Regions from separate parts of the Homo sapiens genome. Here regions 2 and 3 are each linked to region 1. Evidence: fine-mapped expression QTL. A gene starts in region 1. Each other region holds a variant in brackets. All regions are shown on one strand. Distances are between the middles of the regions.

Region 1 (8,264 bases):
AGAGCGGAGATGATCACAGGATAAGGAATGGGTGAGTTAGTGTATTAAAGCTCCGGGACACCGGAAGCACTCAACATGTGCGAACAATTGTTATTCATTCTCACAACAACCCTCTGTATCCGGGTCTTCTGCCCTGAGACACCAACACCCGCGGAGTCCCTCTCTCCTTCCTTCCAACAATCAGAAGACTTGAAGGCAAAACTAAAAAGTAAGTGGCTTTCTCTCTCTGCTTCTCATCCCACCTGATCAGCCCAGGTGCGTGTGGGCATCACACCAGGGAAACGCAGACGAAGGATCTGAGCGAGCCCCCGGTCCCCAACTCACTGCAGATCCTTGGTGTTGATGAGGAACAGGACCAGGAAACTGCTACTGTTTTTCTGGAGAGGGCAGTCCTGGAAATCCCGGGTCTGGGGGGTGGGCAGGAGGGAGTGAGTCTTGGTTACTCCTCTCCTGGTCCAGCTCCACCCTGTCTCCCTCCCTGTCCACCCACGGGATCTTCCTGCTCCTGCCTCTGACAAAGAACAGGGGCCCTTGGGTTACAGATGCAGAGGACAGACCCTACCCCCTCCCTCCAGCCCCTTCTCCCGTCTTCCCCATGCCCTCCACTCACTGAATAGGAGCGAACTCTGCCAGACCGAACCCGGCTGAGACTGAACCCCACCTGGTGGGTGGAAAAAAAAAGGGGAGGGTGTGAGGGACAGTAGAGACCTCCCAGCTATCCCTTTCAGTAGCAATAGAAACCTAACCTCACATTTACTGAACACCTAACATGTGCTAGATCCCACACGCTCTTTTTCTTTTTTAGAGTTGGGGTGGTGGGTGGACCTCATTCTGTTTCTCAAGCTGGAATACAGTGGCAGGATCATAGCTCACTACAGCCTCGAACTCCCAGGTTCAAACGATCCTCTCACCTCGGCCTCCCGACTGGCTGGGACTACAGGCACACCTCACCACGCCCGGCTAATTTTAAAAACTTTTTGTAGAGACGGGGTTCTCACTATGTTGCCCAGGCTGGTCTTGAACTCCTGGCCTCAGGCAATCCTCCCACCTTGGCCTCCCAAAGTGCTAGGACTACAAAGCCTGAGCCACCGCGCCCCGCCTGTCCCCCAAGTCTTAAGAAAAGTGCCTAGCACATCCTGTGTAAGACATCATTACTCCCAGGTACAGATGACGAAACAGGCTCAGAGAGATGACGGGACTTGTACAAGATCACATGGGTAGCGGCAGAGCTGGGAACCCAGAACCGGGGGATTGCACCGTGCTCTCCTCCAGCAAACTCCTCAAGGTCCCTCACCAGCAGGGACTTCTCTTCTGCCTCCCGGAGGCCCAGCCGCAGGACGCTCAACTCCACCTCCAGAGAGCCATTGGTGTAGAAACCGAAGCTGTTCAGCTGGATGTCCGCTCGCTTCTCCCCCTGCCGGAGACCAAGGAGGCAGAGGCAGTTCAGACCTCTTTCCGCCTGCCCAGCCCCAGGGGTCTGGCACGAGGACCTCCAGAAGGGCCTCCTGGTACCCCTCTATTTAGGACAGGCCCAGAGGATGACAAGAGAAAGTTGAGAGGGACTTCCTCCCTGCAGGGGAAGGGTGGTCCTGCATTCTCCGACCTCTGTTCTGAGAACCCAGGAACAGAGATCCTGCGGCACCTGGAAGTCTCCCCACTGGGGTGAGCACCGCCCGGAGAACAGTTATTCACCTCGGCGTGCCTGACCTTCACCTTCCCGAAGAACTTTTACATTCCAGTTGAGCTCCCAGCAATATTTCAACAGAACCCCCCAAATCCCATTAAGTGCCCAGAGGACCCCACTCTATAGCCCCCCAGGACCCCGCTGTGCGGCTCCAGGGTCTCTAGCGCCCCAAAAGTGATTCCAAGAATTTAAAGGACTAAGACCCAGTTGGGGGGAAGGGGGGTGTAGTCCCCAAGAGATGGAGCCTCGCCCCCGAAGGGAGGGGGCCGACCCCAGCGAGGCGGACCCGGCAACTCCATCCGGAGGACCGAAGGGGATCCCGGGACGAGACCACTCCGGGCCCGGAAACGGGGGGCGCCGGACCACTCCACCGCCTCGGGGACGGGGGAGGGCGGACGAGACCACTCCAAGCCAGGGGGCTTCTCCGAGACAAAGTTGCGCCACCGACCCCAGACCCTCGCGCGGCGGGCCTCACCGTCAGCGCCAGCTGGTGGATGCGCCCGGAGCAGCCACCCAGCAGCAGCACCAGAAGTAGCCGCTGCCCCCACTCCGCGGGGCTCCCGCGGCCGAGCCCCCTCCTCTCGCTCACTGCCATCTCTGGAGCCACCTCCTCCCCGACTCCGCCTCTGGCGCCCAAGCCCGCCCACCGATGAGCCAATCGCCGCACGGCGGGGCCCGGCCTTTCGGAGTTTCCAGTCCGCCAACCAATCAGCAATTGCCTCTCCGCAAGCCCGCCTGCTTGCGTCACCGACGGACAGCACCGGTTCCGAATGGGAGAGCCGATAACGCTTAACCCCCAGCTCACTCTCACCAATCGCTATAAAGATTGTCCGGATGTGATTTAATGAGCAGTTTATCTAACCAATTGTCATGGATCTGATATCCGGCCCTTAAAGCGGAATTTCTCCACCCACTCTTAACTGTCCGGGACTACATTACCCAGAATGCAGCGGGAGCAGACAAGGGCCACAAAGCATTAAATAAACTACCTTTCCCAGTATCCCCAAGGACGGACTTCCTCTTCTTGAGCCAGGGATGTGGCTCCCAGCCAGAGCTGAGGCTTTTGGTAAACACACGCATCTGTTCAGGCCTGACCTGTTTTCCTAATCTTCCTGGTCCACAGAGAGGCCTAAAGCTGGCCTCAGGTTAAAGTTTGACCCTAGGATGACCTATGACCCCAGGCTGAGACCCCAGCCTTAGGCTAAGCCTTTTATTCCAGAGTGAGGCAATTGGAGCCCCACCCCCAGATTCCAGGCTAGACCGGACTCCGGGCTGAACTCTGACCCCAGGTGAACTCCCTCTCTGCAAGTTGAGTCCTAACTTCAGCCTGAAACTCTGACACCCCCTCGTCCCCCACACCACACACTGAGGCTTAATCTCTGGTTTAGGCCACCGATCTGGACTAGCCCTGACTCCAGATTGGACCTGACCCCTTACCGGGTTGCTAATCCTTCTGGTTAAGCCTCTGGCCTCTATCCCCTATCCCCACGGTGGTGCTGACCTGGACTGAACCCCAATTCCAGTTTGAGTCTCTGAGCAGAGGTGAACTCAGAACTTTGCTAGGCTGAGCCCCCATTTGAGACTAGCCACAGAACTCACTGGGTTCAATTGCCCAACTGCAATCAGACATTTTCTAGCTCAGAAGCCACCAGCAGGTGGGGCCAGGTCTCAGCAGAGACATCAGTCCCAGTGTGGGCTCCCAAGGCTCTCCTCCTGGGCTCAGCTGTATCTCTCTGTTCTGGGAGCCTGGGTGCTCTGTGTAAGGGGAACGTATACCCAAGGGCCCCCCTGCAAGACGCCCAGCCTTGTCTGAGGCTGCAGAGAAAGCGCCAAAGCCCGGAGAGAATGGGAGTGGGAATCCCCAGTGCCTCCTCTCCTCTTTCATTCCAGCACCTCAAAGGGATTTACAAGGTGTGAACAGACTTTTATGGGAGAGGTGACAGACTTCCCTTCTCCAGGGCCCAGATGGCCCAGATGTCTGGGGGAGGGGCGGAGTCGGAATCTCAGGGGCAGTACTGAGAATGAAACCAGGTTAAACTGGAAAATGGGCAGATGCAGGCGCGAACTGGAAGGCAGCTGGGGAAAGGCCTGGGCCTGGCGCCCCAAGGACGGCCTGTCTTCAGTTTCCCAGCGGAGACTCTGGGGGAGGGAAGGCAGGATGCGGTGCGGGAGTTAATGGACCTGGCCTTGGCGAAGGCGCGTCCTGGGTTGGATCGAAACCCTCTCATCCGCCCTGTGGCCGGAGGGACCAGACCATTAGTGGGACGAACCTAGACGCCTGGAGCCGGGCCGGCTCGCAAGAACGGGGTGACCTCAGGTTGCCCCTGCAATGGGGTTGAGGAAGGACTTCTTGAGTTTGGGGTTTTAGTGTCTTGGCCCTTTAAGGAATAATTGCGGGGAAAGGGGAAAAGGAGATGGGAAGAACCGTTTGGAGCGGGGAAGGAAGATGAGAGGACGAGAGGGACCCCGGGGATTTGGAAAAAATGGGTGGGGGTTCTTTAAGGGGTCGGTCCAGCGGCGTCGAGTGGCAACGTTGCTTTAAAAGGGGGCGGAGCGTCCGTTGGGCCCCGCCCCCGAATCGCAGTGCTTGGGCTCCGCGCGGGTGGGGGCGTGGCAGAGCGTGCAGGGGGGCGGGGAAGAGTCTGGGGTGGGCGGGGCCGGGCGGGGCGGGGCGGGGCCAGGCGCACCGCCCTCGGCTGAGTCTCCCCGGGGAGGGCGGCGGGCGGCGGGCGGCGGGGACCGGGTGCGGTGGTGGCTGCGGCGGCGGCGGCGGGAGCAGCATGGATTGGGGCACTGAGCTGTGGGTAAGTCCAATCGGCCCGCCTCTAAGTTCCCCTTTGCTGGGGTCCAGGCACCCCCCTTTTGTCCCCAATGTATCTTAGAGGGGGCTCCGCGCCTTTCCCTTCCACCGACCCCTGGGTCCCCGCCCTCCACCCTCCGCTCTCTCTCGAAGTTTATCTGGGAGTCTCAGCACGCTCAGGGGCGAAGGGCGACTTTGCCGGACCGGAGTGGGGAAACTGAGGCACAGGGTTGCGAATGAGGCGGGCAGAAGGAATCCTGGGGCCAGGCCGGGGCGGCTGAGAGAGGTCACCTATTTTGGGCGCCCTGGCCGGGCAGGCGGCTTATCTTACGGCCCCTGGGTCCCTGCCCGTCGTCCGCCTGTCCGGCTAGGAGGGGGGAGGGGACCCTCTGGTCACCCTCATCCCCACCCACGTGGGACCTAGAAGTCCTGACCGCCCTTTCCCTCGCCTTTAATCAACACCTAGGGGCTGGGGACGCTCATGGAGGGGAAGGGGGATGCTAAGCTCGGCCTGATCCCCCTCCCTGGCTTCCCCCTGCTCACCCCAGGCCCAGGGCGGGACCGCCCCCTGGTCGCCTATAACCTCAGCCCTGGAAGCCCCAGAAATTTCCCCCTATCCTAGCCGGACCTCTGACCCCTCCCCTTGCTGGGGGCGGTGGAATCCCTGAGTTCTTAGTGCAGCGGGGGTAACCAGACTGCCACCCCCTCCTCCAATTCTGCGATTTCTTTTGGATGTGTAGTGGGGTCAGTGGGGTAAATTGAGTCACCCATCGGGGGATCCCTGGAAGCAGGGAGATTCAGGGAACCTGGTGCCTGCCCCCTGGCCACTCAGGGGCCCCCAGTCTGCCAGGAACCCTGCCCCTCTGGCCTTGACTCACGCCGGGCCGGCCGGATTTTCCGGAATCCGGGGGGATTAGGGGAGCCCGAGCTGGGGGAGTGGCCCTGTCCCCTTCCACGCCCCTCTTGGCGGTCCTATGTCGGAGACCTCCATCTCCCGGCCGGGGTGGCTGGGGCCTGGGCGCTGTTCTCCGGCCCTTCCCGGGAAGGGGAGGGGGTTCCCGCCAGTTTCCTGCCTCCCCCCGCGCCACGCCGGGGCGGCGCCGGGAAGCCACTCCTTCTAGGAGCGCAGAGCCTTGGCCCTCCCTGGGAGTCTGGTCGGCGGGCTGTGGGGTCCCAAAATCGTGACCCCGGCCCCTCTCCCCTCCTCCCCCACCATGTCCCATGTCAGGATCAGTTCGAGGTGCTCGAGCGCCACACGCAGTGGGGGCTGGACCTGTTGGACAGATATGTAAAGTTCGTGAAAGAACGCACCGAAGTGGAACAGGCTTACGCCAAACAACTGCGGTGAGACCCTGGGGTGGACGCTACGGAGGACGCGCCTGGGGCGACGGGGAGCGGTGGGAGGGCTGCGGGCTCAGCCCTCCTACCTCTGTCTCCCCTTAGGAGCCTGGTGAAAAAATATCTGCCCAAGAGACCTGCCAAGGATGATCCTGAGTCCAAGTAAGGTTGGAGAGGGGCTGCAGGGCTAGATTTGTGGGGAAAGGCGGTGCTTGGGTCTCACTTCCCCTCCCTCAGCTGGGACACCCCACCGCTCCTCTCACTTCCCCTTCTAGAGGTGAGAGCATGGATGCAAGATGCGGGATTATCTGGCTTGGAATCCTGAGTCCACTACTATGTAGAGAAATTGACTTGGGCTTGTGACTCAGGTTTTCTGCCACTATTTTCCTTAACTGTTAAATACAGAGGCCCCAGCAGTTACAAAACCAGTAACTTTGGGCAGATGACTTAAAGTTTTGCGCCTCTGTTTTCCTCATCTGTGAAATGGAATGATGACGATTCCTCCAGCTTTGTAGGGCTTTCATGAACACGAGCTGAGTGAATGTGTTTAAACAGTGTGCAGTCCATATCAAACGCCGTAAGGAGCATTTGACTTGGAATTGAGTCCCCAATTCCAAAATCCAAAAAAGCCCTGGAAATCAAGTTGTTTTGGTCACTTGTTTGGCAGCAATCTCTGACCTGAACTTTTTGTTAATTGTAGTTGTTTTGTTTTGTTTTTGACAGAGTTTCACTCTGTCCCCCAGGCTGGAGTGCAGTGGCGCCATCTCAGCTCACTGCAACTTCCGCCTCCCAGGTTCAAGCGATTCTCCTGCCTCAGCCTCCCTAGTAGCTGGGATTACAGTCACCTGCCACCATGCCCAGCTAATTTTTATATTTTTAGTAGAGACAGGGTTTCACCATGTTAGCCAGGCTGGTAATTGTAGTTTTGACTTTTATCCCACTTAGTGTGAATGTTAACACCTCTCATTGTAAAATTAAAAAAAAAAATAGGGTTGGGCACAGTGGCTCACACCTGTAATCCCACACATTGGGAGGGTGCGCAGGTGGATCACTTGAGGTCAGGAGTTCGAGAGCAGCCTGGTCAACATGGTGAAACCTTGTCTCTTCTAAAAATACAAAAATTAGCCAGGCGTTGTGGTGCGCGCCTGTAATCCCAGCTACTCAGGAGGCTGAGGCATGAGAATCGCTTGAACCCGGGAGGCGGAGGTTGCAGTGAGCCAAGATCGCACCACTGCACTCCAGCCTGGGCGACAGAGTGAGACTCTGTCTCCAAAACAAATAGATACGGTGTTTGATTACAAAATGATGTCCCCAACCCCACTAAGATGATGCAGAAAAGATGGTATAAGCTTTGTACACCATCTTTAAAAACTGGAAAATTCTGTGTTCCAATATACATTCGAGGTCCAGTGCGGTGGCTCACACCTGTACTCCCAGCACTTTGGGAGGGTGAGGCGGGAAGATGCGGAGTTCGGGGGGATTGGAGTTTGAGACCTCATCTGGAAAAAAAAAATTAGCCAGGTGTGGTGGCGTGTGCCTGTGGTCCCAGCTATTTGGGAGCCTGAGGTGGGAGGATCACTTGAGCCCAGGAGTTTGAGGCTGCAGTGAGACGCAATCATGCCGCTGCACTGCAGCCTGGGTGACAGCAAGACCCTGTCTCAAAAAAAAAAAAAAAAAAAATCTACTCAAGGGTTGGGGTTAAGGAATATGGACCAGAATTTGTCATCGCTTCAGGGATTACATTCTTGGGGCTTAACCCTTTTCCACCTGGAGGTGCGTCCTGGGGCATCAGCCTGCTCGGGAGGAGGGGCCTGACTCCCTGTTCCCCGATTCTCATCCAACCCCAGATTCAGCCAGCAACAGTCCTTCGTACAGATTCTCCAGGAGGTGAATGACTTTGCAGGCCAGCGGGAGCTGGTGGCTGAGAACCTCAGTGTCCGTGTATGTCTTGAGCTGACCAAGTACTCACAAGAGATGAAACAGGAGAGGAAGATGGTGAGGAGCCCCCCGATTCAGGTTTTACAAAGGGCTTCTGCTGGAACCCTGGCGAGCCTTATCACTCTTCTTTCTGTAGCACTTCCAAGAAGGGCGGCGGGCCCAGCAGCAGCTGGAAAATGGCTTTAAACAGCTGGAGAATGTGAGTTTGCAGAGGTAGCAGTGACTGTGGCCCGGAGGCATGGGGGCAGGGTTGCGGATCCGGAGTCAGGGAGCTGCCCTCTTTGTCAGACCTGGACCTTCCCTCCCCCATAGGCTTCCAGTACTCCCTTGACCCCTACTTACTGGATGACATCCCAATAATCCCTGAAACCTTGGTTTCCCACCCTGCTGTCTTTGGGATGGTGGCTCCCTCACTCCGGTTCTGTCCCCTACACAGAGTAAGCGTAAATTTGAGCGGGACTGCCGGGAGGCAGAGAAGGCAGCCCAGACTGCTGAACGGCTAGA
Region 2 (8,264 bases), 100 kb before region 1:
AATTAATGCAGATGGTCCAAATCTGTGCTACTCAATACCATGCTATTCCATGTCAATAGCCATATGTTACTATATGGCACTTGGAATGTGGATCTGAACTGAAATGTCCTGTTGTGGCCAGGCGCGGCGGCTCACGCCTGTCATCCCAGCATTTTGAGGGGCCGAGGCAGGTGGACTACTTGAGGTCTGGAGTTTGAGACCAGCCTGGCCAACATAGTGAAACGCGGTCTCTACTAAAAATACAAAAATTAGCCAGGGTATGTAGGGACCAGCCCCACAGGGTCGGTGGGTTTTTCTCCCTGTGTGTGTGAGGAGATGAGAGATCGTAGAAATAAAGACACAAGACAAAGAGATAAAAGAAGACAGCTGGGCCCGGGGAACCACTGCCACCAAGACGCAGAGACCGGTAGTGGCCCCGAATGCCAGGCTGCACTGTTATTTATTGGATACAAGACAAGGAGGCAGGGTAAGAAGCGTGAGCCATCTCCAATGATAGGTAAGGTCACATGAGTCACGTGTCCACTGGACAGGGGGCCCTTCCCTGTTTGGCAGCCGAGGCGGAGAGAGAGAGAGAGGAGACAGCTTACGCCATTATTTCTGCATATCATATCAGAGACTTTTAGTACTTTCACTAATTTTGCTACTGCTATCTAGAAGGCAGAGCCAGGTGTACAGTATGGAACATGAAAGCGGACCAGGAGTGTGACTGCTGAAGCACAGCATCACAGGGAGACAGTTAGGCCTCCGGATAACTGCGGGCGAGCCTGACTAATGTCAGGTCCTCCACAAGAGGTGGAGGAGCAGAGTCTTCTCTAAACTCCTGGCCTCGAGTCTGCTAAGTAGCCCGTGTTTTCCCTTGGCACTGACGCTACCGCTAGACCACGGGCCACTTGGCAACGGGCGTCTTCCCAGATGCTGGCGTTACCCCTAGACCAAGGAGCCCTCTAGTGGCCCTGTCCGGGCGTGACAGAGGGCTCGCACTCTTATCTACTGGTCACTTCTCACCATGTCCCTTCAGCTCCTATCTCTGTATGGCCTGGTTTTTCCTAGGTTATGATTGTAGAGCAAGGATTATTATAATATTGGAATAAAGAGTAATTGCTACAAACTAATAATTAATGATATTCATATATAATCATATCCATGATCTATGTCTAGTATAAGTATTCTTATTTTATGTATTTTCTTTATTATACTGGAACAGCTCGTGCCCTCGGTCTCTTGCCTCGGCACCTGTGTGGCTTGCTGCCCACAGGGTGTGGTGGCGGGCACCTGTAATACCAGCTACTTGGGAGGCTGAGGCAGGAGAATCTCTTGAACCTGGGAGGTGGAGGTTGCAGTGAGCTGAGATCGAGTCACTGCACTCCAGCCTGGATGACAGAGGGAGACTCCATCTCAAACAAACATACAAACAAACAACAACAACAAACAAACAAAGAAACACATTAAGAAATGCTTAGTGGCCCGGCATGGTGGCTCATGACTGTAATCCCAGCACTTTGGGAGGCTGAGGCAGGTGGATCACTTGAGGTCAGGAGTTTGAGACAAGCCTGACCAACATGGTGAAACCCCGTCTCTACTAAAAATATGAAATTAGCCTGGCGTGGTGGCAGGTGCCTGTAATCCCAGCTACTCGGGAGGCTGAGGCAGGAGAATCGCTTGAACCCAGGAGGCGGAGTTTGCAGTGAGCCGAGATGGCACCATTGCACTCCATCCTGGGCAACAGAGCAAGACTTCATCTCAAAAAAAAAAAAAAAAAAAAAAAAAAAGAAACACTTAAGGATCTGGTAGGAATGTAAATTGTGCAGCTGCTATGGAAAACAGTATGGCACTTCCTCCAAACATTAGAATAGAATTACTATGATCCAGCAATTCTACTTCTATGTACATACCCAACAGAATTGAGAGCAGGGATGAGAACAGATATTGTTACGTCTGTGGCCATAGGAGTAGTATTCACAGTAACCAAGATACAGAAGCAACCCCAGTGTCTACTGATGGATGAATGCATAAACAAAATGTGGTATATCCATATAATGGAATATTATTCCGCCCTGAAGAAGAATGAAGTTTTAATATATCCTACAACATGGATGAAACTTGAAGACATTATTCTAAATGAAATGAGCCAGCTGCAAAAGGGCAAATACTGTTATGATTCCACTTATATGAGGAAATGATGGAGCAAATTTATAGAGACAGAAAGGAGAAAGGTGGGTGTCAGGGGCTGGGGAGGAGGGAATGGCGAGTGAGTGTGAGTGTTTAATGAGCACAGAGTTTCAGTTTTGCAAGATGAAAAACTTTCTGGAGATGGACGGTGGTAATGGTTGCACAACAATGTGAATATACTTCATATCAGTGAAGAGTACACTTAAAATTGTTAAAATGGTAAATTTTTGTATTTTTAGAAGAGACGGGGTTTCGCCATGTTGGCCAGGCTGGTCTCGAACTTCTGACCTCAGGCGATCCACCCACATTGGCCTCCCAAAGTGCTGGGATTACAGGTAAATTTTATGTTATACATGTTACCATAATTAAAAATAGATGCATTTTTAAATGCTTAGGGAATATTTCCAAAGCTTGGCCTTATACTGAGTGATAAATCACATCGCTATCAAAGGAATTGATATCATATACTCTCTCTAAGTTACTCATGGAGGATCAGAGGAGGAATAAAAATGTAATTAGGACAGTATCTAGTTTCTTAATTTATTTTTATTTTTAATTTTTATTTTTTTGAGAGAGTCTCGCTATGTGGCCCAGGCTGGAGTGCAATGGTGTGATCTCGGCTCACTGCAGCCTCCACCTCCCGGGTTTAAGTAATTCTCCTGCCTCAGCCTCCTGAGTAGCTGGGATTACAGGCACGCACCACCATGCCTGAATAGTTTTTGTATTTTTAGTAGAGACAGGGATTCTCCATTTTGGCCAGGCTGGTCTCGAACTCCTGACCTCAGGTGACTCCCCTGCCTTGGCCTCTCAAAGTGCTGGGATTACAGGCGTGAGCCACCGCATCCAGCTTGGAATCTTAATTTAAATGAAGCAGAGCCTTTCAGACTCTTTAAATAGGCAAAAAATGTGCCTGTGTTTATCATCGAATTCAGTGGTTCTCAACTGGGGTGATTCTGTCCTTCCAGGAAACATTTGGCAACATCTGGAGACATTTTTGGTTGTTACAACTGGGGGTGATCCTGGCATGGAGGCAGGATCCTGAGACACTCCTCAGCACCTTGCAGTGCCCAGATGGCTCCACCCAAGAGGACAATCTGGCTCCAAATATCCACAGAGCTGAGGCTTAGAAATCAAAAC[T/C]GACAAGTATTTGCAGTTTTTTATTTTATTTTTTGAGACAGAGTCTCGCTCTGTCGCCCAGGCTGGAGAGCAATGGTGCGATCTCTGCTCACCACAGCCTCCGCCTCCCGGGTTCAAGTGATTCTCCTGCCTCAGCCTCCCGAGTAGCTAGGATTACAGGCGCCCGCCACCATGCCCGGCTCATTTTGTATTTTTAGTAGAGATGGTGTTTCCCCATGTTGGTCAGGCTGGTCTCGAACTCCTGACCTCAGGTGATCTGCCTGCCTCAGCCTTCCAAAGTGCTGGGATTACAGGCTTGAGCCACAGCGCCCTGCTGCCTTTTCTTAGAAACAGAGATTTTAGTTTCAATGGTGTTTCCAGGGCAACAAATAAAGAAAATCAAGCAGAATTATAGAGATTTCAGAGACTGACAGTTACTTTACCAGAACACACCATCTGACTGTGAAGTTCAGGTGTATAGAATATACAAATCTTCTTCTATAAAAGAATATTTGCAAGTCTAGTTTCATGGTGCAGAATAATTGTTTTTTTCAGCTGTAGGGGAAGGAGAAACATGTTTTTTCCCCTCTGCTGGAAGGAAAAATATGCTGCCTCCCTTTCTCCCTCCCTTCCTCCCTCCTTCCCTCTCCTTTCCTTCCGTCCCTCCCTCCCTCCCTCTCTCCCTCCCTCCCTCTCTCTCATTCCTTCCTTCCTTCCCTCCTTCCTTCCTTCAACTTTTTTTTTTTTTTTTTTGAGATGGAACCTTGCTCTGTCGCCCAGGCTGGAGGGCAGTGGCGCGATCTCGGCTCACTGCAAGCTCCGCCTCCCGGGTTCACGCCATTCTCCTGCCTCAGCCTCCCGAGTAGCTGGGACTACAGGCGCCCGCCACCACGCCCAGCTAATTTTTTGTACTTTTAGTGGAGACGGGGTTTCACCGTGTTAGCCAGGATGGTCTCGATCTCCTGACCTCGTGATCCGCCCATCTCGGCCTCCCAAAGTGGTGGGATTACAGGTGTGAGCCACCGTGCCCGGCCTTACTTTTTAAAATTTAAATTTATTGGCCGGGCGCAATGGCTCATGCCTGTAATCTCAGCACTTTGGGAGGCCGAGATGGGGTGATCACAGGGTCAGGAGTTCAAGACCAGCCTGGCCAACATAGTGAAACCCCGTTTCTACTAAAAAATACAAAAAATAAGCCAGGCGTGGTGGTGGGCATCTGTAATCCCAGCTACTCAGGAGGCTGAGGCAGGAGAATCACTTGAACCCGGGAGGCAGAGGTTGCAGTGAGCCGAGATTATGCCATTGCACTCCAACCCTGGGGAATAGTGTGAGACTCTGTCTCAAAAAAAAAAAATTAAATTAATTAATTAATTTATTTTTTGAGACAGAGTCTCAGTATGTCACCCAGGCTGGAGTGCAGTGGTGCAATCTTGGTTCACTGCAACCTCTGCCTCCCGGATTCAAGCAATTTTCTGCCTCAGTCTATGGAGTAGCTGGGATTACAGACGCCCTCCACCACCCGACTAATTTTTGTATTTTTAGTAGAGATAGGGTTTCACCATGTTGGCCAGGTTGGTCTCGAACTCCTGACTCCAAGTGATCCACCTCCCTCGGCCTCCCAAATTGCTGGGATTACAGGTGTGAGCCACCGTACCTGGCTTTAAAAATAATTTTAAATTAAATTTTATTTATTTTTTGAGACAAGGTCTTTCTTTGTTGCCCAGGCTGGAGTGCAGTGGTGCGATCACAGCTCACTTCAGTCTCAACTTCCCCAGGCTCAGGTGATCCTCCCACCTCAGCCTCCCGAGTAGCCGGTACCACAGGCAGGTGCCACCATGCCTGGCTAATTTTTTAGTTTTATTTTTTGTAGAGACAAGGTCTCGTTATGTTGCCCAGGCTGCTCTTGAACTCCTGAGCTCAAGCAATTCACCCGCCTCTGCCTCCCAAAGTGCTGGGATTACAGGCAGGTGCCACCATGCCTAGCTAGTGGCCATTATTTATTGAGCATCTAGTTTGTGCCAAGAACTGCTAAACTAAGCACATGTGGGTCGGGTGTGGTCGCTCATGCCTGTAATCCCAGCACTTTGGGAGGCCGAGGCGGACGGATCACCTGAGGTCAGGAGTTCGAGACCAGCCTGACCAACATGGAGAAACCCCATCTCTACTAAAAATACAAAAAATTAGCCGGGTGTGGTGGTACATGCCTGTAATCCCAGCTACTCCGGAGGCTGAGGCAGGAGAATCACTTGAACCCGAGAGGCAGAGGTTGCGGTGAGCCGAGGTTGTGCCATTGCACTCCAGCCTGGGCAACAAGAGCAAAATTCCATCTCAAAAAAACAACAACAACAAAAACAAAAAAACAAACAAAAAAACCCTAAGCACTTGTGCTGTTTTAACGATACCCAGATAGTAGGGGGAAATATGAGTTATGACATAGTGGGGATGCTTTTATCACTTTTTACAGGTGAGGAAACTGAGGCACAGCAAGGTTAAGTCAGCCACTTAAGGTCACCCAACCAGTAACTGACAGAGTGGAGATCTGGATCAGAAGGAAGAATGGAAAAAAAAATCTTAAATTATTTTAAAATCACTATCCTTCCATGCAGGATCTCTTTGAATCTTCCCAGTGACTTAGTGAGGAATGAGCTATTTTTTTTCTGTATTGTACAGCTGGGGAAACTGAGGCTTAGTGAGGTGAAGGGACTTGACCAGAGTGATACAGGAGCCCCTAAACTGTGGCAATTCAGTTCTCAGGGCCAAGTTTTGGTAAGAGTGTCCTGAAGTGGGGTGAGGGCAGCGTAAAGAGGAACATGGAGAAGAAAGCGTGGGAGGGCCGGGCGCGGTGGCTCTCGCCTGTAATCCCAGCACTTTGGGAGGCCGAGGCAGGCGGATCACTTGAGGAAAGGAGTTCGAGACCAGCCTGCCCAACATGACAAAACCCCATCTCTGCCAAAAATACAAAAATTAGCTAGACGTGGTGCTGGGCACCTGTAATCCCAGCTACTCGGGAGGCTGAGGCAGGAGAATCACTTGAACCTGGGAGGCGGAGATTGCAATGAGTCAAGGTTGCACCACCACACTCCAGCCTGGGCAACAGAAACCCTATCTAAAAAAAAAAAAAAAAAAAAAAAAAAAGCAAACAGCTGGGCACAGTGGCTCAAGCCTGTAATCCCAGTACTTTGGGAGGCCAAGGCAGGAGGGTCTCCTGAGGTCGGGAGTTCGAGACCAGCCTGACCAACACTGAGAAACCCTGTCTCTACTAAAAATACAAAATGAGCCCGGTGTGGTGGCACATGCCTGTAATCCTAGCTACTCGGGAGGCTGAGGCAGGAGAATCACTTGAACCTGGGAGACAGAGGTTGCAGTGAGCCAAGATTGCACCACTGTGCTCCAGCCTGGGCGACACAGAGAAACTCTTATCTTAAAAAAAATAATAAATAAACAAACAACAACAACAACAAAGAAAAGATGGGAGATGAAGGGAAGCAGGTGCAAAGGGCTGGATTTGAAATCCTGAGATGATAAAGGTCAACACCCAAAGGCTCAAAACCCTTCTCCAAACCCTCATCTGAGCTCACCCAGCACCTGTGACGGGGGCCCACCTGCATAGAAAGACACTCAATTGGATGTTCATCACTGCATTGCGTATAACACTGTGAAGCAGGCTACGTGTCCATCAGTAGGAGAGCAGATAATAAAATGGGGTCTATGCATAGGCTGATACCAGCCCATATATCCACCCAGAAGATATAGGTGAGTGGGTTAGGGCAAGGGCTCTGAAACCAGAAGGATCTACCACTTCCTAGCTGAAGAACCTTGCACTGGTGACCTCACTCCCTCGTGCCTCCGTTAGCTCATCTGTAGTTAGGGGACAATCATAGTATCAACATCGCAGGGGTTAAGATGATCTGGGTTAAGCACTGAGCATGTGGAAATGACTCAGTAGATGAGGTGTCAGCAAACTTTTCCTGTGGATAAGACCAATGGAGACCTCTAAAATCACTTTCCTTGTCACCTCTCACTGACCAAGACAGTAAATCAATGCAAGGTTGGGCCAGGCACGGTGGCTCATGCCTGTAATCCCAGCACCTTGGGAGGCCAAGGCAGGTGGATCACCTGAGGCCAGGAGCTCGAGACCAGCCTGGCCAACATGGTGAAACCCCGACTCTACTAAAAATACAAAAATTAGCCGGGCGTGGCGGCACGTGCCTGTGGACCCAGCTACTAGGGAGGCTGAGGCAGGTGGGTCACTTGAACCTGGAAGCCGGAGGTTGCAGTGAGCCAAGACTGTGCCACTGCACTCCAGCCTGGGCTGCAGAGTGAGACTCTGTCTCAAAAAAAGCAAAAGCAAAAGCACAAACACAAACAAAAACAAAAACAAATGCAAGGTTGCATCACAGTGGAATAGCAGAGATTAATGTCGCCCTTAAGGGCCTAAAGACATGGTGAGCAAGGTCTCAGATCCCTCAGGGATGAGGATCTAGGTGACCCCACCAGGTGAGCCACCTACACCAACAGAAGGGCCACCTGAAGATGAAGGGACTCTAGAAGGGACAGTGGGAGAGGGAGAGGGTGAACACTCACGGGGGCTGCTAGACTCCACTCCTGCAGTGTAAACTGTGGCTCATCCCACCAACCTTCATTTTCTGGCTGGCATAGAGACCAAGAATCCTAAGTAGCTGTCCTCAAATGCAGTGAGTCTCCTTATAAAACAAATGAATCTGGGCCGGGCGCCATGGCTCACTCCTGTAATCCCAGCACTTTGGGAGGCTCAGTTGGGCGAATCACCTGAGGCCAGGAGTTGGAGACCAGCTTGGCCAACATAGTGAAACCCCATCTCTACTAAAAATACAAAACTTAGCTGGACGTGATGGGGGGCACCTGTAACCCCAGCTACTCGGGTGGCTGAGACAGGAGAATCGCTTGAACCCAGGAGGCAGAGGTTGCAGTGAGCCGAGATCGTGACACTGCACTCCAGC
Region 3 (8,000 bases), 63 kb after region 1:
TATTGACATACAGTAAATTACATATTTAAAATACATTGGTGGGGCGCGGTGGCTCACGCTGTAATCCCAGCACTTTGGGAGGCCGAGGTGGGCAAATCACTTGAGGCCAGGAGTTCAAGACCAGCCTAGCCAACATGGTGAGACCCTGTCTGTACTAAAAATACAGAAATTAGCCAGGCATGGTGGCACGCACCTATAATCCCAGCTACTCAGGAGGTGGAGGCAGGAGAATCGCTTGAACCTGGGAGGCGGAGGTTGCAGTGAGCGGAGATCGCATCATTGCACTCCAGCCTGGGCAACAGAGTGAGACTCTGTCTCAAAAAAAAATATATGATTTGGTAAACAATTTTTTCTTTAATTTCTAGATTTGTTTTCAGAAACGGTCTTGGCAGGGCATGGTGCCTGAAGCCTGTAATCTCGCCCCTTTGGGAAGCTGGTGTGGGAGGATTGCTTGAGTTTAGGAGATCGAGATCAGCCTGGGCAACATGGTGAGACCAGCCTCATCTCTAATAAATAATAAATAAATAAATAAATAAATAAAATAATTAGCTGGTCATAGTGGCATGTGCCTGTAGTCCCAGCTACTTGGGAGGCTGAGATGGGAGGATCATTTGAACCCAGGAAGTCGAGGCTGCAGTGAGCCAGGATTGCACCACTGCACTCCAGTCTGGGTGACAGAGTGAGACCCTGTTTCTCCCCTTCCCCCCCCCACCCAAAAGAAGGGGGAAAAAAGAAAGAATCAGGGTCTCCCTATGTTGCCCAGACTGGCCTTGAACTCCTGGACTCAAGCGATCCTCCTACCCTAGCCTCCTGAGTAGCTGGGATTACAGGTGTGTGCCACTGAACCTGGCCTGATTTGATAAATTTTGACATATGTGTGCAACTATGAACCCAGCCTTGAAATCAATGGATCATATCCATTGCCCCTCAAAGTTTCCTCCATCCCACCCCTCCCTGCCTCCCCCTCCTCCCACCTCTCATTCCCTCGTACCTCCTGATTTGCTGTTAGTCACTGTCGATTAGTTTGTATTTCCTGGAGTTTTATGTAAGTGGAATGGTACCATCTGTGGTCTTCTGTGACTGGCTGCTTTCCCTGAGCATGATGTCCTGGTTCATCCATGTTGTTGTATGTATCAGTGTACCATTCTGTTGTACGGATGCACCCCAGTTTGTTTATCCATTCATCCCTTGATGGAGGTTTTTTTGTTTGTTTCGCTTTGTTTTTTTGAGATGGAGTCTCGCTCTGTCGCCCAGGCTGGAGTGCAGTGGCGCAATCTCGGCTCACTGCAACCTCCGCCTCCCAGGTTCAAGCGATTCTTCTGCCTCAGCCTCTCGAACAGCTGGGACTACAGGTGTGCGCCACCACGCCTGGCTAATTTTTTTGTATTTTTAGTAAAGACAGGGTTTCACCATGTTGACCAGGCTGGTCTCGAACTCCTGACCTCATAATCTGCCCACCTCGGCCTCCCAAAGTGCTGGGATTACAGGCGTGAGCCACCATGCCCGGCCTATACTTTAAGTTCTGGGATACATGTGCAGAACGTGCAGGTTTGTTACATAGGTATACACGTGCCATGGTGGTTTGCTGCATCCATCAACCCATCATCTACATTAGGTATTTCTCCGAATGCTATCCCTCTCCTAACCCCCAGCCCCCGACAGGCCCCAGTGTGTGATGTTCCCCTTGGTTGAGGTTTGAATTACTGATGGCACTTTTGGCTATCATGAATCAAGTTGCTAGCTGGATATGGTGGCACATGCCTGTAGTCCTAACTCTTTGGAAGGCTGAGGCAGGAGGATTGCTTGAGCCCAGGAATTTGAGACTGCAGTGAGCTGTGATTGGGCCAGGCTGCACTCCAGCCTGGGTGACAGACTGAGACTGTCTCAAAAAAAAAAAAAAAAAAAAAAGGAAAGAAAAGAAAACAGAATCAAGCTGCTATGAACATTCTGTACAAGTCTTTGTATGGACATGTGCTTTCATTTCTCTTGAGTAAATGCCTGGTAATGGAATATATCGTATGATAGGTGCATGCTTAATGTTTTAAGAAAACTTACCAGGCCAGTCACGGCGGCTCATGCCTGTCATTCCAGCACTTTGGGGAACTGAGGCGGGAGGATTGCTGGAGCCTAGGAGTTTGAGACCAACCTGACCGACATAGTGAGGCTCTGTTTCTTAATTTTTTTTTTTAATAAGAAGAAAATGTACCAACTTTTCTTCCTTTGTGCTGGAATTGCAAGGTAAAAAAATAATAGTAATAACAAGGAAAACGTACCAACTTTTCCAAAGTGGATCTGCCATGTGATGTTCCTGCCAGCTGCTCAGCATGCTTCTCTTCTTTGCTTCACTATCTGTCTCATTTTTTTTTTTTGAGATGGGGTCTTGCTCTGTTGCCCAGGCTGGAGTGCAGTGGCATGATCTCGGCTCACTGCAACCTCTGCCTCCTGGGTTCAAGCGATTCTCCTTCCTCTGCTTTCCAAGTAGCTGGGACTACAGGCGTGTTCCACCACACCCAGCTAATTTTGTATTTTTAGCAGAGACAGGTTTCACTATATGTTGGCCAGGCGCGTCTCAAACTCCTGACCTCAAGTGATCAACCCACCTCAGCGTCCCAAAGTGCTGGGATTACAGGCATGAGCCACCACACCCAGCTTCTTTTTTTTGTTTTGTTTTGTTTTTTGTTTTTTTGAGACATCCTCGGTCTGTTGCCCAGGCTGTGCAGTGGCGTGATCTCGGCTCACTGCCACCTCCGCCTCCTGGGTTCAAGCGATTCTCCTGCCTCAGCCTCCAGAGTAGCTGGGATTACAGGCGCCTGTCACCACGCCTGGCAAATTTTTGTGTGTGTGTGTGTGTGCAGTCGGGGTTTCACCATGTTGCCCAGGCTGGTCTTGAACCCCTGACCTCAAGTGATCCGCCCGCCTCAGCCTCCCAAAGTGCTGGGATTACAGGCGTGAGCCACCGCACCCAGCCGCTCACCATCTCTTTGTCGCCTGCATGGCACCATTCTCTCCTGTACCACCCCAAAGCCTTACCAGGTGCCTCCTGCATTTAACCAGGTCCCATAGCTCTCTGTGCTTCCCGGCACACCCTCTCACCACCCTCATCATCAATTATTCACCTTGCTGACTGCTTAGTGTTTGTCTCCTGGCTGGATTACATAAGCCCTGTAAGGGCAGAGCTCTGTTTGTCTTGATCACCATTAGGTTCTGGTGCTTGGCATACAGTAGGCATTCCACACATGCTTGCTGAATTAATGCATGACCGGGTCTGGGGTGCTGGGTTTCACACCAGGCTCTACCGCAAACATTGGGTCAAGTATTTTCATTCCCGACGTACAGATGAGTCAATTGAATCAACGGAAAGCAAAATGATCCCATCCAAGCTCCCTCAACTTGCCGGGCTGGTCTGGGAGTCGAACCAGATCTGCCTGACCCTCCCACCGGTGCTGAAAAGTGGAGTGTGTGCTGGGGTGGTAGGGGATGGGGCAGAAGAGAGACGGGCTTCCTCACAGAAGGGTTTGAGGGCTAGGATGAGGCGTGCACACTCTGCACCCCTGCTTCGGAGCTTTGAAAGGGTGCACAGCACACCCGCCCTCTCTGGGAACCCTCGGGAGCTTGAGGTTGCCTGATGAAGGGGCTGATGGGTTGAACGCAAAGGGCCCCTCCACCCACCCTTTTTTCTATCTCCCCAACCAAGCCCTGGTAACAGGCATTTCCGGTTTCCGGCCGGCTCCCTGGTGCTGGGGTGGGGGTGGGGAGTTGATTGCTGCCGTCGTGCTTGGCTCTGGGTCCCCTTCTCCCAGACCCCAGAGGCCTCTGTCCCTGCACACTGCTTCCCCGAAGGAGCGTGGAAAGCCAGCCGACCTTTCTGGCTCTTTCTTCATCTTGGGCAGGGGTTTTGTTGATGGGAGGCTGGCTGGCAAATGGGGAAGAATGAACCTCAGGGTTCACCGCAGTGCGCCTGGGTGCTGATTTGCATATGGGCACGATGCCAGCACAGTGGGTGCCCGCCTCTTCCTGGAGGAAGGAAGAGGGGCACTGAGGGGGGTTGCCCCCAGCAGGGAGGAACCGTCCTCATAATGCCTCTCCTACGTTTGTTTAAAGGACCATCATTCTCAGCAAACTATAGCAAGGACAAAAAACCAAACACCGCATGTTCTCACTTATAGGTGGGAATTGAACAATGAGAACACATGGGCACAGGAAGGGGAACATCACACACAGGGGACTGTTGTGGGGTCGGGGAAGTGGGGAGGGATAACATTAGGAGATATACCTAATGCTAAATGAGGAGTTAATGGGTGCAGCACACCAACATGACACATGTATACATATGTAACAAACCTGCACGTTGTGCACATGTACCCTAAAATTTAAAGTATAATAATAATAAAATTAAAAAAAATAAAGGACCTCCTGTCCTTTGCCACTTTCTCACACTCTTCAGGCGACCAGGAAGTCCTTTCTGGTGGTCTAACTGCAGTCACTGCTGCTGTCTGATGGAGCCCCTTTCTTTAGCTGGCCCCACCGCAGCCCGGAGAGGGGATGAATCATGCCCCCTTTCCCCTCTTTGAGGCATCACATGACTGGAAGGAAGCTGTCTC[C/T]GGGTTCAGCTGATCTCCCTGAGGTCAGGAGGGAACTTCCTCCCTCGAGCCACAGACACAGCCATCTGCTCTATTGTCTCTGGTGATCTGCCTGCCCATGAGCGCCCTCATTATGCCACTCTCTAAGAGGCACCAGGAGCAGCTTAGTGTGGTTCAAAGAGGCAGTGTTGTACAGAGGTTAGAGGCACAGACTTTGGGATCCAGTGCTGGTATCTGGTTCTCCATTCCTATCTGTGTGGTCCGGGATGGGCAGTATCCCCTCTCTGAGCCTCAGTTGTTTCCTCTGTCAAAGGGAGATTTATTCATTCGACAGATTTTATTGAGCATCTACTATGTGTCAGACATGGTACTAGGTATTGAGGTCCTCTATTTACCCAAAGGAGTTGAACATTTATGTCCACACAAAAACTTACACTCAAGTCTTTGTAGCGGCTTTATTCATGATTGCTGAAACTGGGAGGCAACAAATTGTCCTTCGGTAGATGAATGCGATGTAGGGCAAGGCAAGCCCTAAATTGGGGCTCAGCCTGGGACGGTTCTTTGTTTTGCCCAGGAAAGAATTCCAGGGCGAGCTGGAGGTGTTAGACAGTAGCTTTTACTGAAGTGAAAGTGCATAGCGGCAGTTGCAGAAGTCCTGCTCCTCGCAGAGCAGGGCTACCCCACAGGCTGTGAGCCCGGAGTAATCAGGGTTGCAGTCATCTTTGTACCCACTTTAATTATATGCAAATTAAAGGGCAGATTATGCAAATTTCTAGGAAAAGGGTGGTAACTTCTGGGTTGTCGGGTCATTGCCTTGGGAAAGGAGTAGTAGCTGCTGGTGTTACCATCACAATGGCAAACTGCCATGGCACACTGGTGGGCATGTCTTATGGAAAGGTGCTTCTGCTCCAGCCCTGTTTTAGCTAGTCCTCAATTTGGTCCGTTGTCTGAGCCCCACCTCCAGAGTCAAGTTCCACCTACTTCCTCGTATGGATAAATAAGCTGTGGTGCATCCAGACAATGGAATATTATTATTATTATTAGAGATGGACTTTTGCCCTTGTTGTCCAGGCTAGAGTGCAATGGTGTGGTCTCGGCTCACTGCAACCTCTGCTTCCCAGGTCCAAGCTGTTCTCCTGCCTCAGCCTCCTGAGTAGCTGGGTTTACTGGCACCTGCCACCACACCTGGCTAATTTTTGTATTTTTAGTAGAGATGGGATTTCACCATGTTGGCCAGGCTGGCCTCAAACTCCTGACCTCAGGTGATCCAGCCACGTCGGCCTCCCAAAGTGCTGAGATTACAGGTGTGAGCCACTGCTCCCAGCGCAGACAATGGAATATTATTCAGCACTGAAGAGAGATGAGATGAGCTCTCAAGCCATGAAGAGACACGCAGGAACCCCAAATGCATATTACTAAGTGAAAGAAGCCAGTCCCAAAAGGCTACATACTATATGATACCAGCTATGTGATGTTTCAGAAAAGGCAAAACTGTAGAAGCAGTAAAAAGATCAGTAGTTGTCAGAGGTTAGTGGAAAGGGGGTATGGATAGGCAGAGCATGGAAGCTTTCCACGGCAGTGAAAATACTCTCTATGACACTATAATAGTGGATACCCATCATCATACATGTGTCCAAATCCAGAGAATGTGACGCACGGCAGGCAAGCCCCAAAGTGGGGCTTAGCCTGTGAGGCTTCTTGGTTTCACCCAAGAAGCCTCACAGGCTAAGGAAAGAATTCAAGGGTGATTCCAGTGGTAGGGTAGACGAAAACAGCTTTATTGCCGTGGCAGTGTTACAGCTCCATGACTGCTCTTGCAGGGCTACCCCACAGGCTGAGAGTAGCAGCTCAGGGCAGTTTGGCGGTCCTATTTATATTTATTTATTTATTTATTTAGAGACAGAGTCTTGCTCTGTCGCCCAGGCTGGAGTGCAGTAGTGCAATCTCAGCTCATTGCAACCTCTGCCTCCCAGGTTCAAGCAATTCTCCTGCCTCACCCTTCTGAGTAGCTGGGATTACAGGCGCGTGCCACCACGCCTGACTAACTTTTGTATTTTTAGTAGAGATGAGGTTTCGCCATGTTGGCCAGGCTGGTCTCAAATTTCCGACCTCAGGTGTTCTGCCTGCCTTGGCCTCCCAAAGTGCTGGGATTACAGGCATGAACCACTGTGCCCTTCCCATACCTCCTTTTTTTTTTTTTTTTGAGACGGAGTCTTGCTCTGTCGCACAGGCTGGAGTGCAGTGGCGCAATCTTGGCTCACTGCAAGCTCTGCCTCCCACGTTCACGCCATTCTCCTGCTTCAGCCTCCCAAGTAGCTGGGACTACAGGCGCCCGCCACCATGCCCGGCTAATTTTTTGTATTTTTAGTAGAGATGAGTTTTCACCATGTTAGCCAGGATGGTCTCGATTGCCTGACCTTCCTGAGGCGTGAACCACCCGCCTCAGCCTCCCTAAGTGCTGGGATTACAGGTGTGAGCCACCGCCCCCCGGCCCATACCTCCTTTTAATTACATGTAGAGTAAGGGGCAGTTTATGCAGAAATTTCCAGGGAAGGGGTAGTAACTTTTGGGTGATCAGGTAATTGCCATGAAAAGCGGTGGTAAGGCCGGGCGCAGCGGTTCATGCCTGTAATCCCAGCACTTTGGGAGGCCGAGGCGGATGGATCACCTACAGTCAGGAGTTCGAGACCAGCCTGGCCAACATGGTGAAACCCCGTCTCTACTAAAAATACAAAAATTAGCTGGGTATGGTGGCACACACCTGTGATCCCAGCTACTCAGGAGGCTGAGGCAGGAGCATCGCTTGAACCCGGGAGGTGGAGGTTGCAGCGAGTTGAGATCATAATACTGCACTCTAGCCTGGGCCACAGAGCAAGACTCCATCTCAAACAAAACAAAACAAAACAAAAACAAAGAAAATAGACCAGTTGTGGTGGCTCACATCTGTAATCCCAGGACCTTAGGAGGCTGAGGCAGGAGGATCACTTGAGCCCAGGGGTTCGAGACCAGCCTGGGCAACATAGTGAGACCCTCATTTCTACAGATACACACACACACACACACACACACACACACATACACGCACACACACATGAGTTGGGGGGATGGTTTCAGGATGAATCAACCACATTACATTTATTGTTCACTTTATTTCTATTATTATTACATTGTAATATATAATGAAATAATTATACAGCTCACACATATGTGTATATATATATGCACACACACTATATGAATATTATATATAGTAATATTTATTCATTTATATGAATAAAAAAGAAACTAAAAGAGAGGAGGAAAGGAAGGAAGGAAGAAGGAAGGAAGGAAGATCAGCCTGGAGTCTCTGGACTGCCCTGATGGAAGTGTCTTGGATGCTAAAGGGGTTTATGGGCTGATTCCCTCAACTTCCTCCCGTCT

Alleles and levels. Alleles are on the strand shown, and positions count from the first base shown. SD is a standard deviation of normalised expression in the study named. Not every link is listed here.
For the expression in skeletal muscle of the gene that starts at base 4,383 in region 1, allele T in region 2 goes with a higher level than allele C (large effect, 1.2 SD a copy in FUSION).

What was found.
Region 2: its variant is fine-mapped to the expression of TRIP10 in skeletal muscle (FUSION, PIP 0.95).
Region 3: its variant is fine-mapped to the expression of TRIP10 in whole blood (TOPMed, PIP above 0.99).

What each region holds. Positions count from the first base shown.
Region 1 is chr19:6,735,298-6,743,561 of GRCh38, forward strand. TRIP10 (thyroid hormone receptor interactor 10) reads left to right here and starts at 4,383. Exons shown (of 15, transcript NM_001288962.2): 1 at 4,383-4,488; 2 at 5,713-5,828; 3 at 5,928-5,984; 4 at 7,670-7,817; 5 at 7,897-7,959; 6 at 8,197-8,264. The coding sequence starts at 4,465. GPR108 (G protein-coupled receptor 108) reads right to left here and starts at 2,283. Exons shown (of 18, transcript NM_001080452.2): 1 at 2,160-2,283; 2 at 1,295-1,414; 3 at 611-661; 4 at 325-407. The coding sequence starts at 2,279. MIR6791 (microRNA 6791) reads right to left here and starts at 1,481; the gene lies at 1,415-1,481. RefSeq lists enhancers at 1-634, 1,158-1,307, 2,748-2,807, 2,940-3,708, 3,788-3,877 and 3 more and silencers at 1,098-1,252, 1,618-1,779, 1,928-2,097, 2,198-2,257, 4,228-4,507 and 1 more.
Region 2 is chr19:6,632,465-6,640,728 of GRCh38, forward strand. No RefSeq gene overlaps it. Among named protein-coding and RNA genes, the nearest start is that of TNFSF14, 34 kb to the right of the region's middle. RefSeq lists an enhancer at 7,209-7,258. The variant T/C (reference allele first, on the strand shown) is at 3,307.
Region 3 is chr19:6,797,959-6,805,958 of GRCh38, forward strand. The region is part of intron 1 of VAV1 (vav guanine nucleotide exchange factor 1); the gene reads left to right. Among named protein-coding and RNA genes, the nearest start is that of VAV1, 29 kb to the left of the region's middle. RefSeq lists enhancers at 3,754-4,274, 4,065-4,134, 5,017-5,236. The variant C/T (reference allele first, on the strand shown) is at 4,602.